Linked DNA regions of Homo sapiens: region 2 is linked to region 1. Evidence: fine-mapped expression QTL. A gene starts in region 1. The other region holds a variant in brackets. All regions are shown on one strand. Distances are from middle to middle.

The links. PIP is the estimated chance that this variant, and not a neighbour inherited with it, causes the effect.
Region 2: its variant is the best candidate, but not a certain one, in a credible set for the expression of NENF in whole blood (INTERVAL, PIP 0.88).

Annotation. Positions count from the first base shown.
Region 1 is chr1:212,429,831-212,435,206 of GRCh38, forward strand. It overlaps NENF (neudesin neurotrophic factor), which reads left to right and starts at 3,090. Exons shown (of 4, transcript NM_013349.5): 1 at 3,090-3,290. The coding sequence starts at 3,114. It overlaps LOC105372906 (a long non-coding RNA gene), which reads right to left and starts at 2,987. Exons shown (of 3, transcript XR_922577.4): 1 at 2,795-2,987; 2 at 1,911-2,014; 3 at 131-501. RefSeq lists a cis regulatory region at 1,165-1,452, a silencer at 2,876-3,435 and an enhancer at 3,596-3,685.
Region 2 is chr1:212,386,316-212,391,691 of GRCh38, forward strand. It overlaps PACC1 (proton activated chloride channel 1), which reads right to left. Exons shown (of 8, transcript NM_018252.3): 3 at 576-785. Among named protein-coding and RNA genes, the nearest start is that of PACC1, 26 kb to the right of the region's middle. The variant T/A (reference allele first, on the strand shown) is at 3,270.

The DNA of each region.
Region 1 (5,376 bases):
AATTATAATCTCTCCCATCTAACTGGGAAACTGTAAAAGCTCGTCATAAGTGACAAAAGCAGTCTTCTTGGTTGTTTTACCCATTGGCTATCTGTCACATGTGTCCGTATAGAAGACCACCTAAACAGGCTTTGTGTGAGCAACAGGGCTGTTTATTCACTTGGGTGCAAGTGGGCTGAGTACGAAAAGAGAGTCAGCGAAGGTAGATAGGAGAGGGGCAGCTTTATAGGACTGAGGTAGGCAGTGGAATGTTACAGTTAGAGGTGGTTATCTATTGTCAGCAGAGGAGGGGGTCACAGGGTCCATGGTGGGGAGATCATAAGATTCATTGTCCAGAAGAAGAATGTCACAAGGTCGATTGATCAGTTGGGGCAGGACAGGAACAATTCATAATGGTGGAACGTCGTAAGGCTGGTCAATCAGTCAAGGCAGGAGCTTCTTTTGTTGCACTTCTTTTGTGTTTTTTTGGCTGCTCCAGACTTCTTGGCTCCTGCAGGCCATCTGGACTTATAGGTGCAGGTCACAAGGGTTACAATGGCTGAGCTTCAGCTCAGAGGCCTGACACTGTCTTCTCCCCACAGGCAGCCACAATTGACATTGAGCTTCAAGCCAAAGCCATAGCTAAACACAGCTGCAGTTTTCAATAATACACGCCATGCCCTTACCCTCTTGACTGAAGAAACATCTCAAATTAGACAGATAGCCTTATGAAACTATGGCTCTGGACATGTTAACAGCAGCTCAAAGGGGGAACTTATGCTATAATCAAAACAGAATGTTATGCATACATTCCAGACTATTCACATAATGTTACTCAGGCCACAAAAGACTTAGACACCCACATCTCTGCCATTGACACGCTGTCAGTTGACCCCATATCAGCTTGGTTCTAACAACTGCCTAGTCCTTGGGAAACTTTTTTTGTTTAGCATGCTTGGGATAATTCTATTCATTCTGTTTTGTGCTGTGGAATATACTGCATTGTACTTTTTATGTAGGAATAAGAGTTAAGCTTATTCAATGCTTCTTTAAATTTAACACGTTAATTTTCTAGATTTCACCTTTTTCTGGGACTTAGAATTATGTATGATTGGTCCTCACTATACAGATGCTTTCTGACTGGCTAGCTCTCTACTTTGGGCAAAGGGATCCTAATGGTTAGGCAGGAATATCATCGCTTCTGTTCAGCTTGAAGTTACTGAAGATGGATCTCTGTCCCCCTGCACCCCTTAGGATTAAAGGTCTCCTTGTAAAAAGGAGGAGGGAATTATGTCAGAAGTGTCCTAACCAGAGTGATTCCATCTTGAATAAAGGTCAGATAAAGCCAAACCTGCTGGGCGACTTTCCCAGGAAGATAGGCACTCTTCACAAGATGTTTATGGTTGAGGAAATGAGATAATGGAAAAAGGCATTCTTAGTTTAAAAATGAGTTTCACTTTAAAGATAACAGTACACCCATAAATTCTCCCTGAAGTCAATAGTTACACAAGAGAATAACAATACTAATAGTCTGTAACAAGCTGATCATAGGCTTTTGTAATGAAGTACGCTAGTTTTAGCCCTATAAAAGCAAGCATTACATTGAAGGCAGAGGTGCTCCTATATAAACAATACTTGCTTAGTACTACTTCAAAGCAAGGATACTACTCAGAAACACAGTAGTACTATTATTAGAAATGGAGTAGTTTCTAATGAACTATTTTAACTACTATGCTCTGCGACTTGCCCTGATTCTTTGCCGTGGACGTCTAAGAACCTGCTCTTGGGTCTGGAATGAGACCCTTTTTCTGTTAATTCCTCTATTCCAGTCTTGAAAGTAAAAGCCAGTCTTGAAAATAACCTGTGAAGCCCCCAAGATCCACCCCCACTCCCTTACCCGCTTCCTTCCTGACTTCACCTACCCCTCTTACCTTCCCTTGATCCTCCAGCAAGCCGGGCATCCTCATTCCTCCGCATTTATGCACCTGATCCTTTGACCAAAGTGCTCTTCCCTCTAGACCGCCTCCTTCGCCTCCTGTAGATTTTTATGCAAATACCCTGTTCTCAGTGAGGCCTTCCCTAACCTGCCTATTTAAAATGACCATCCCCATAACCGGGCACCGTTCCTCACACCTGTAATCCCAGCACTTTGGGTGGATGAGGTGGATGGTTCACTTGAGGCCAGGAGTTCGAGACCAGCCTGGCCAGCATATAGTGAAACCTCATCTCGACTAAAAATTAAAAAAAAAAAAAATTAGCCAGGCGTGGTGGTGGGTGCCTGTAATCCCAACTACTCTGGTGGCTGAGGCAGGAGAATCACTTGAACCCGGAAGGTGGAGGTTGCAGTGGGCCGAGATGGCGCCACTGCACTCCAGCGTAGGCGACAGACTCCGTCTCAAAAATAAATAAATACATAACAATAAAATAAAATAAAATGTCCATCCCAGTGCTCCCTATCTCTTTGCCCTACTTTTTCTCCCTAGTATTTACCACCATCTAACATACTACTTAGCATCTTATTGTCTATCTGCCCACACAATGTAAGCTTCACGTGGGCGTGGATCTGTCTTGTTCAGTGGTGAGTCCCCAGTGACCTGGTACATGGAGGTACTCAAAAATATTTGTTGCATAAAGTAATGAGCAAAGTTTGGCACAAATGTTAGCTATTATTATTTCAGGGCGTATCGGTAACAGCACCCTACCCTTTGCAAAAATCTCCTTGGGAACCAGAAACTTAAACACAACCAGGAAGAAAAAAAATCAGCCAAAAATAAAAGCGAATTAAGACAGTTGGGGTCTTATTTTAGAAATATACCTTTCTAGGTTCTGGTATGTTGGGCTCTGTCATCTTTCTACCTGATCAAGGAACCACTGTGACATTTTTTGGTAACTTCCAGTCTGTAGTTTGGATTTAGGAGTTCAGGATTCCAATCCTAATTTCCAGGTTCCAGCTGCGTGGCCCGAGTAGCCCGGCCAGCCCCACCCCGGGGCGCAGGAGGCGCGCGAAGGGCGGGAGTTCTCGGGTCCCCGCCCTCGGGGAGGCTCTGGGCGCGGGGCGGGACTCCGGGACGCTGGGCGGGCGTGCTAGGGCCCCGCCGCCCTGGCCCGGCCTTGCCTTGCGCTGCGCGCTCACCATGGTGGGCCCCGCGCCGCGGCGGCGGCTGCGGCCGCTGGCAGCGCTGGCCCTGGTCCTGGCGCTGGCCCCGGGGCTGCCCACAGCCCGGGCCGGGCAGACACCGCGCCCTGCCGAGCGGGGGCCCCCAGTGCGGCTTTTCACCGAGGAGGAGCTGGCCCGCTATGGCGGGGAGGAGGTAGGCGGGGGTGTCGCGGGCCGAGGGACCCGGGGTGGCGTCCGATCTGCGGCGAGCCGAGCGGGGACCCAGGAGGCGCCGGCGGCCCAGGAAGCTCTGGGGGACGCGCGGCCCGCGGCGGGCGCCCTGGGCCGGCGGGGGGCCTCCTCTCTCTAGGCCCCGAAGGATGGCCGAGGGGTGAGGACGAGTCCTCAACAGTCGGAGCGCTCCGCTTTGCCCGCACACCCCACCCTGAACTTCTCCCTCGGTCCCCGGGAGATTTCCCCTCTAGCCGCCTTTTCGTTGATGATCTGCGTACAGACCTCAGAACTTTTTGGTTTTCATGTTAGCATCAGCCGAGGCGTTTACTGTGCCCACGCATAGTGGGGAGTGGCGGGGGACGGAGGGAGGGAAGCAGAGCCTGCTCCCTGGGTTAGGTGGGAATTGAGACAGGTCCTGGGATAAGCCAGTCTTTGCCTGCACTTCCTTTTCCTGCCCCTGTATCCCAGGCCTCTGCATCGGACTCCTCAAACCCACTTTTAGGTCATGTACCCCTGGGGCTCAGCCAAAGCTGGAAGTGAGCGCAGAGGGTGGACTGGAGGTTAGAGACCCCCACAACCCCCCCGCCACACGTCAATAGAGACCCCCCCGCCCACACACACCCACACACGTCAATAGTCTAGAGGCGTCCAGAAAACTCACAACCACCTGCCCACCTGGGTTGGTTGGGACTGGAGCCGCACGACAAGGACCAACAGGGGGCTGATATTAGATGTGGAGCGGGGGAACGGCATTGGGGGGAGGTCATAGTACCATAGTATTTCAGAGCTGGCAGGAACCCATCTCCTGCTTTTACACATAAGGAAACTGAGGCCTGCCACCTGTTAGTGGTAGAGCAGGAAGAGGCCTGATGTTTTTCAAAACCCTCTGGCCTGGTCTCGCTAATTCCTGAGTTAATTGGCCTTATATGGACTAGGATTGCATGGGGGTATCAGAAACCTGGCCCTTAGTCAGTGATGCCAGTTTGGGCATCATTTGTGAAGGGGCCATTTAGAACCATGAGTCAGTGAGGACACCGAGGGAGGGAGACATGGCTGGGATGTGAGGATGTTAAGGGATGCCTTTTTGCCGGTAGCAGAGGGAACCAGATGGTTCAGAGTCCAGGCATCCGTGCAGAAAAGAATTAACATGGCAGGCCTGCTCTCCTTAGAAAAGCCTACTTGCAAGGGTGGGACTTGTCTAGTGTCTGGATTTCTCACCCTTCCCTACCCAATAACGGTGGACTCACTTGCCTAGGCCGTATATACAGATGGTGTGGTTAGTATTGAACACTGTATATGCTAGGCAGAGGGTGCCCCATGTGACCAGCCCCCAGTGAAAACCTTGGGTGCTGAGTCTAATGGGCATCTCTAGCAGAGGAATGTTCTGCCAGAAGAATGGCACATACTGTCAAGTTTTGTTGCTGGGGGAAGAGTGTGCTCTTCCTCATGGGAGGGAGAGAGCATAGGAAACCTGCACATAGATTCCCCTAGATTCTCCCTCTGTGTTTTTCCTTCCCAGCTGTGAGTAGAACTATATGCTGGGTTCTTGGAATCTTCCTTCTAGGGACTCTCCAACTGACCCGATGATCTTTGGGACCACTGGCACAAGAATCTAAGGAAAGAGAGAGTTCACCACTGAGGTTACAGCAAGAGTGCCAGAACTGCAAGATGAGGACTGAGAAAAGACCCTTGGTTTTTTGATGTTGATGTTATAGATTGAAATTTAACTGAGAGAGAGAGGACCTTGAGATGGAAACAGGGGTAGGAAACAATTGTTTTGGGAGTGGAGCCTGAGGATCTCTGTAGGTGGAAGGAAGGAGCCAGAGAGAGGAGGGGAGCGAGGGACGAGAGAGGCAGTTGAGTGCAGTGGGTTCAAGCTGTGCTGCGCTGTTGTTTGACCTAGATTGTTCTGGTCTATGCCTGTTATCCAGGGATAATTATTAATAACACCCTTTCACTCAGAAGTGTGACAATTTGTATAATACATTGGATCATACCTGGTTTTGAGTCCCTGTTCTGCTGTGTGATTTGGGGCAAATTACTAAACCTCTCTGAGTCTCCACTTT
Region 2 (5,376 bases), 44 kb before region 1:
GCAGATAGCTTGCTCTATAGCAGAGTGGACTCCCCACTCAGGGACCAGACACCCCAGTGAGACAGGTATACCCAGTGTGGCCTGGGAGTCCCTCTCCAGGCAGGGTTGAATGGCCTCGCCTCCCCTGCCATCCTCCCCACCCCACAGTCCAGCCTTGACTCCTGCTTCTCCTCATCCCTGCCCTCTGGCCCCAGCCAAGTTAGTCTCATCCTCTCCAGAGAAGCCCTCTGCCTCCCTAGACACCCCTTCGCTCTGCTGATCCCCATCCCAAAGACACTCTCTTCCCATCTATGTGCTTTTCGAGGCCCATCTCAAATCCTACCTCTCTGCCAAGCTTTCCCTGACCCCTCTAGTAGCCTGCAGTAGCTGCTCCAGGCTCTGTCCATTTCTGTCCTCAGCACGTAACACACTCCCAACAGCAGCTCCTTGGGCATAGACTCTATACCTAGACTATGCTTGGTTGGACTCCTCTGCCCTGCCCGTAGTACCACAAATACAACGGCAGCTCAGGGAGTATCTGCCAGCTGACACCCTAGATCTGGGGCCCTGATGCCTGGCCCAGGGGCAGGCTCTACCTGGGGCATCATAGCGATCCACTTCCTTGTAAGACACAGACATGACAGGGTGCTTGAGTTTCTCACGAAAGTCTGTGATGGTCCGGTAGACCAGGAAGACGGCCACAGCCATGAGCAGCAGGTAGATGAAGATGAGTAGGACCGAGAAGACGTTCTTCAGGCAGGCCTTGCTGAAGCGGATGCTGCTGGAGGCGGACTCGCTGTCCAGGCCTGACAACAACAAAACACCATGTGACCCAGGGCACAGGGACAAGGTACAGACAGAGATGGCCAGCAACCTCCAGGCCCTTGCCTGCCTCACCAAGGAGGTGAAGTCACCTGCACGCCCAACCTTTCCACCTCACCCCACAAATCATAACAAAGGGCACCTGTAAACATTTACTACACAGCTTCTCTGCCAGGTAGAGGACACCAAGCTGAAGGAGACTTATTCATTGTCTTTAAGGAGTTTACTCTCAAAAGAAAAAAGATAAAAGATAAAAAACGATAAAAATGTTAAAAGAAAAAGCAAAAAACAAACAAAAAGAACAGAAAAAAGGAGTTTACTCTCTAGAGGGATAGGCAGTTACAATCCAACAAGTGAGCTGGCCCCAACCTACCTCTCTGGCCTTATCCCTCACTGCTCCACTTCCCCAGTTCTCCCAGCTCTAGCTCCACCTCTACTCATCGACTTTCTGTTCTTCTGGAGTGCCCTTCTCAACCCGGGATTCCCTCACACTTACCATTCCCTCTGCTTGATTTTCTTTTCTTCCACAGCTGATGCTTCACTCATCCTAAGCCCCGAAAGCTTTTTGCTTGGCATCTGGCTTCCAACAGTGACAGAGTAGCTTGGTCACGCCATCCTTCCATGGAAGCATTTTAATTTAGAAAGACATTTTCTTGGCCAGGCGCAGTGGCTCAAGCCTGTAATCCCAGCACTTTGGGAGGCCGAGGCAGGAGGATCACCTGAGGTCGGGAGTTCGAGACCAGCCTGACCAACATGGTGAAACCCCTGTCTCTACTAAAAATACAAAATTAGCTGGGCGTGGTGGCGCATGCCTGTAATCCCAGCTACTCAAGAGGCTGAGGCAGGAGAATTGCTTGAACCCAGGAGGCGGAGGTTGCAGTGAGCCGAGATTACTCCATTGCACTCCAGCCTGGGCAACAAGAGCGAAACTCCATCTCAAAAAAAAAAAAAAAAGAAAAAAGAAAGAAAGACATTTTCTTGAGGAAGCCTCTCCTGACCCCTAACCTTTATTTGGGCACCTCTTCCTCAGTGTTCCCAGGGAGCCCTGTACGTCCCCTACTTCATCACTCTGCAATGTCATGTCTATACATCTTTTATCCTCCTAGGCTGTGAGTTCCATGAGGGCAGGGATGGGGCCAGTCTTATCCCTAACTGAATCCTTAGCCCTTCATGCTATGCCTGGAACATTCTGCATTTACATGGTGACTGATTGAACACGTCCTGATGCTATTGGTACAACACAACTCTGTCTCCCCTACCTCCCTCACAAAATCCTGAGGCTAGAAGCTAGATTAATCTCTGTTATGGACGAAACTGTATCCCCCACCCTCAAATTCAGGTTGAAGCCCTAACCCTCAATGTGAGTATATTTAGAGACAGGGACTTCAAGGATATAATTAAGGTTAAATGTGGCCATAAGGATGAGGCCTGATCCAATAGGACCAGAATCCTTATAAGAGGAGGAGACACTAGGAGCACATGCACACAGGAAAAAAGGCCATGTGAGGACACAATGAGAAGGCAGCCATCTGCAAGCCAAGGAGAAAGGCCTCACCAGAATTCAATCCTGCTGGCACCTTGATATTGGATTCTCGCTTCCAGAACTGTGAGAAATAAATTTCTGTTGTTTATGCCACTCAACTGTGGCATTTTGTTACAGCAGTCTGAGCTGACTAAGATACTCCCACAGGGCTCCCTGTGCCCTCTCTGCTCCTCAGCTGAAAATGGAGCTCCCTGAGAAGAAGTCCTATTTCCTCCACAGCCCAGCTGAGCACAAGGCTGAGAACAAGGGAAGCATCTGAACGTAAGCCCCAAAAGGTATCTGCTTGGCATCTGGCTTCCAACAGTGACAGAGTAGCAGTGTCACATCACCCTTCCACAGAAAACAATTATAAACTTTGGACAACATATTTTAAATTATTTGAAGGCACTGGGAGAATGATCAAAAGCAGGTAGAAATTGAAAGAGAGGCTACCCTTGAAAGAGAAGAACTGTACTTGGTGAGATTTATACATCTGTAGCTTTTTGCCTAAGAATACATGCCAATCCCTATAAGGCATGGTTCAGAGTGACAGGGACAAAGTTCAGGGCTGGAAGAGCAGCCAGAAAGTTAAGACAAAACCATGAAAGGGAGGGAGCCACACAGGGGGTGAAACTCCCAAATCTGCAACTAAATATATGTTCAGATCCTTGGCTGGAGAACCCAGGGGGGGCCAGCAAAAAGTAACAACTGGAAATTGAAAGAACTGCATGGAGATTTCAACTACGGCTAATGCAGGGGAGATAGGAGTTTAGAGCTTAAATCTTGCCATATTAACAATATGCCAAGAAAAAAAAATACCCTTCTGAAGATCATAACAGAATCCAGAATCTCTATATCATTCATAATGTCCAGTGTTCAATCAAAAATCACTAGACATGCTAAGAAACAAGAAAATGTGACCTGTACTCAAGAAAAAAGCAATCTA[T/A]AGAAACCAACACCAAGATGACCCAGTGTTGCAATTTAGCAGAGAGAAAATTTACAGCACTTAAAGGAAAATATCTGAATAAGGAATAAAGACAAGATCAATAGAGAAACAGAAACTAATAACAATGGCCAAATATATAGAATTTCAGTTTTGCAGGATGAAAAAGCATTGTGGAGATGGATGGTGGTGATGGTTGCACAGCAATATGAAAGTGCTTAATATCACTGAACTCTACATTTTAATGAGTAAGATGATGAGTTTTACATTACGTGTATCTAACCACTGTAAAAATGTTTCATAAAATTTAAAAAAACAGATGGAAATTCCAGATCTGACAAGAAATAAATGAAATAAAAAGTTCACTGTATAGGCTTAATAGCAAAAGATGGCAGAGAAAGAGTTTGTGAACTCAAAGTTAAATCAACAGAAACTATCCAATTTGAAGAAAATATTGAAGGAAAAAAAAAACCAAATGGAGCCCGGAAAATTGTTACAGTATCTAGCAGTGTAGTGACATGTAACTGGAGACAGAAAATGGGTCACAAAAAATATCTGAGGCCGGGGGTGTGGTGGTTCACCCCTGTAATCCCAGCACTTTGGGAGGCTGAGGCAGGCGGATCACAAGGTCAAGAGATCGAAACCATCCTGGCCAATGTGGTGAAACCCCGTCTCTACTAAAAATACAAAAATGAGCTGGGCGTGGTGGTGCATGCCTATAATCCCAGCTACTCAGGAGGCTGAGGCAGGAGAATCGCTTGAACCCGGGAGGCGGAGGTTGCAGTGAGTTGAGATCACGCCATTGCACTCCAGCCTAGGAAACAAGAGCAAAACTCCATCTCAAAAAGAAAAAAAAAAAAAAAAAAGACTATTGATATTGGGTTCTAAGATGGCTGAATAGGAACAGCTCCAGTCTACAGCTCCCAGCGAGAGAGATGCAGAAGATGGGTGATTTCTGCATTTCCAACTGAGGTACTGGGTTCGTATCACTGGGGCTTGTCATACAGTGGGTGCAGGACAGTGGGTGCAGCGCACCGAGTGTGAGCTGAAGCAGGGTGAGGCATCGCCTCACCCGGGAAGCAGAAAGGGTCAGGGAATTCCCTTTCATAGCCAAGCAAAGCTGTGACAGATGGCACCTGGAAAATCGGGCCACTCCCACCCTAATACCGTGCTTTTCCAATGGTCTTAGCAAATGGCACACCAGGAGATTATATCCCGCGCCTGGCTCAGAGGGTCCCACACCCACGGAGCCTCGCTCATTGCTAGCACAGCAGTCTGAGATCCAACTGCAAGGCGGCAGTGAGGCTGGGGGAGGGGCACCTGCCATGGCTGAGGCTTGAGTAGGTAAACAAAGCGGCCGGGAAGCTCGAACTGGGTGGAGCCCACCGCAGCTCAAGGAGGCCTGCCTGCCTCTGTAGGCTCCACCTCTGGGGGCAGGGCATAGCCGAACAAAAGGCAGCAGAAACCTCTGTAGATTTAAATGTCCCTGTCTGACAGCTTTGAAGAGAGTAGTGGTTCTCCTAGCACAGGGTTTGAGATCTGAGAACAGACAGACTGCCTCCTCAAGTGGGTCCCTGAACCCTGAGTAGCCTATCTGGGAGGCACCCCCAAGTAGGGGCAGACTGACATCTCACACGGCCAGGTACCCTTCTGAGACAAAACCTCCAGAGGAACGATCAGACAGCAACATTGGCTGTTCATCAATATTCGCTGTTCTGCAGCCTCCGCTGCTGATACCCAGGCAAACAGGGTCTGGAGTGCACCTCCAGCAAACTCCAACAGACCTGCAGCTGAGAGTCCTGACTGTTAGAAGGAAAACTAACAAACAGAAAGGACATCCACACCAAAACCCCATCTGTACATCACTATCATCAAAGACCAAAGGTAAATAAAACCACAAAGATGGGGAAAAAAACAGAACAGAAAAACTGAAAATTCTAAAAATCAGAGTGCCTCTCCTCCTCCAAAGGAACGCAGCTCCTCACCAGCAACGGAACAAAGCTGGACAGAGAATGACTTTGATGTGTTGAGAGAAGAAGTCTTCAGACGATCAAACTTCTCCAAGCTAAAGGAGGAAGTTCAAACCCAACGCAAAGAAGTTAAAAACCTT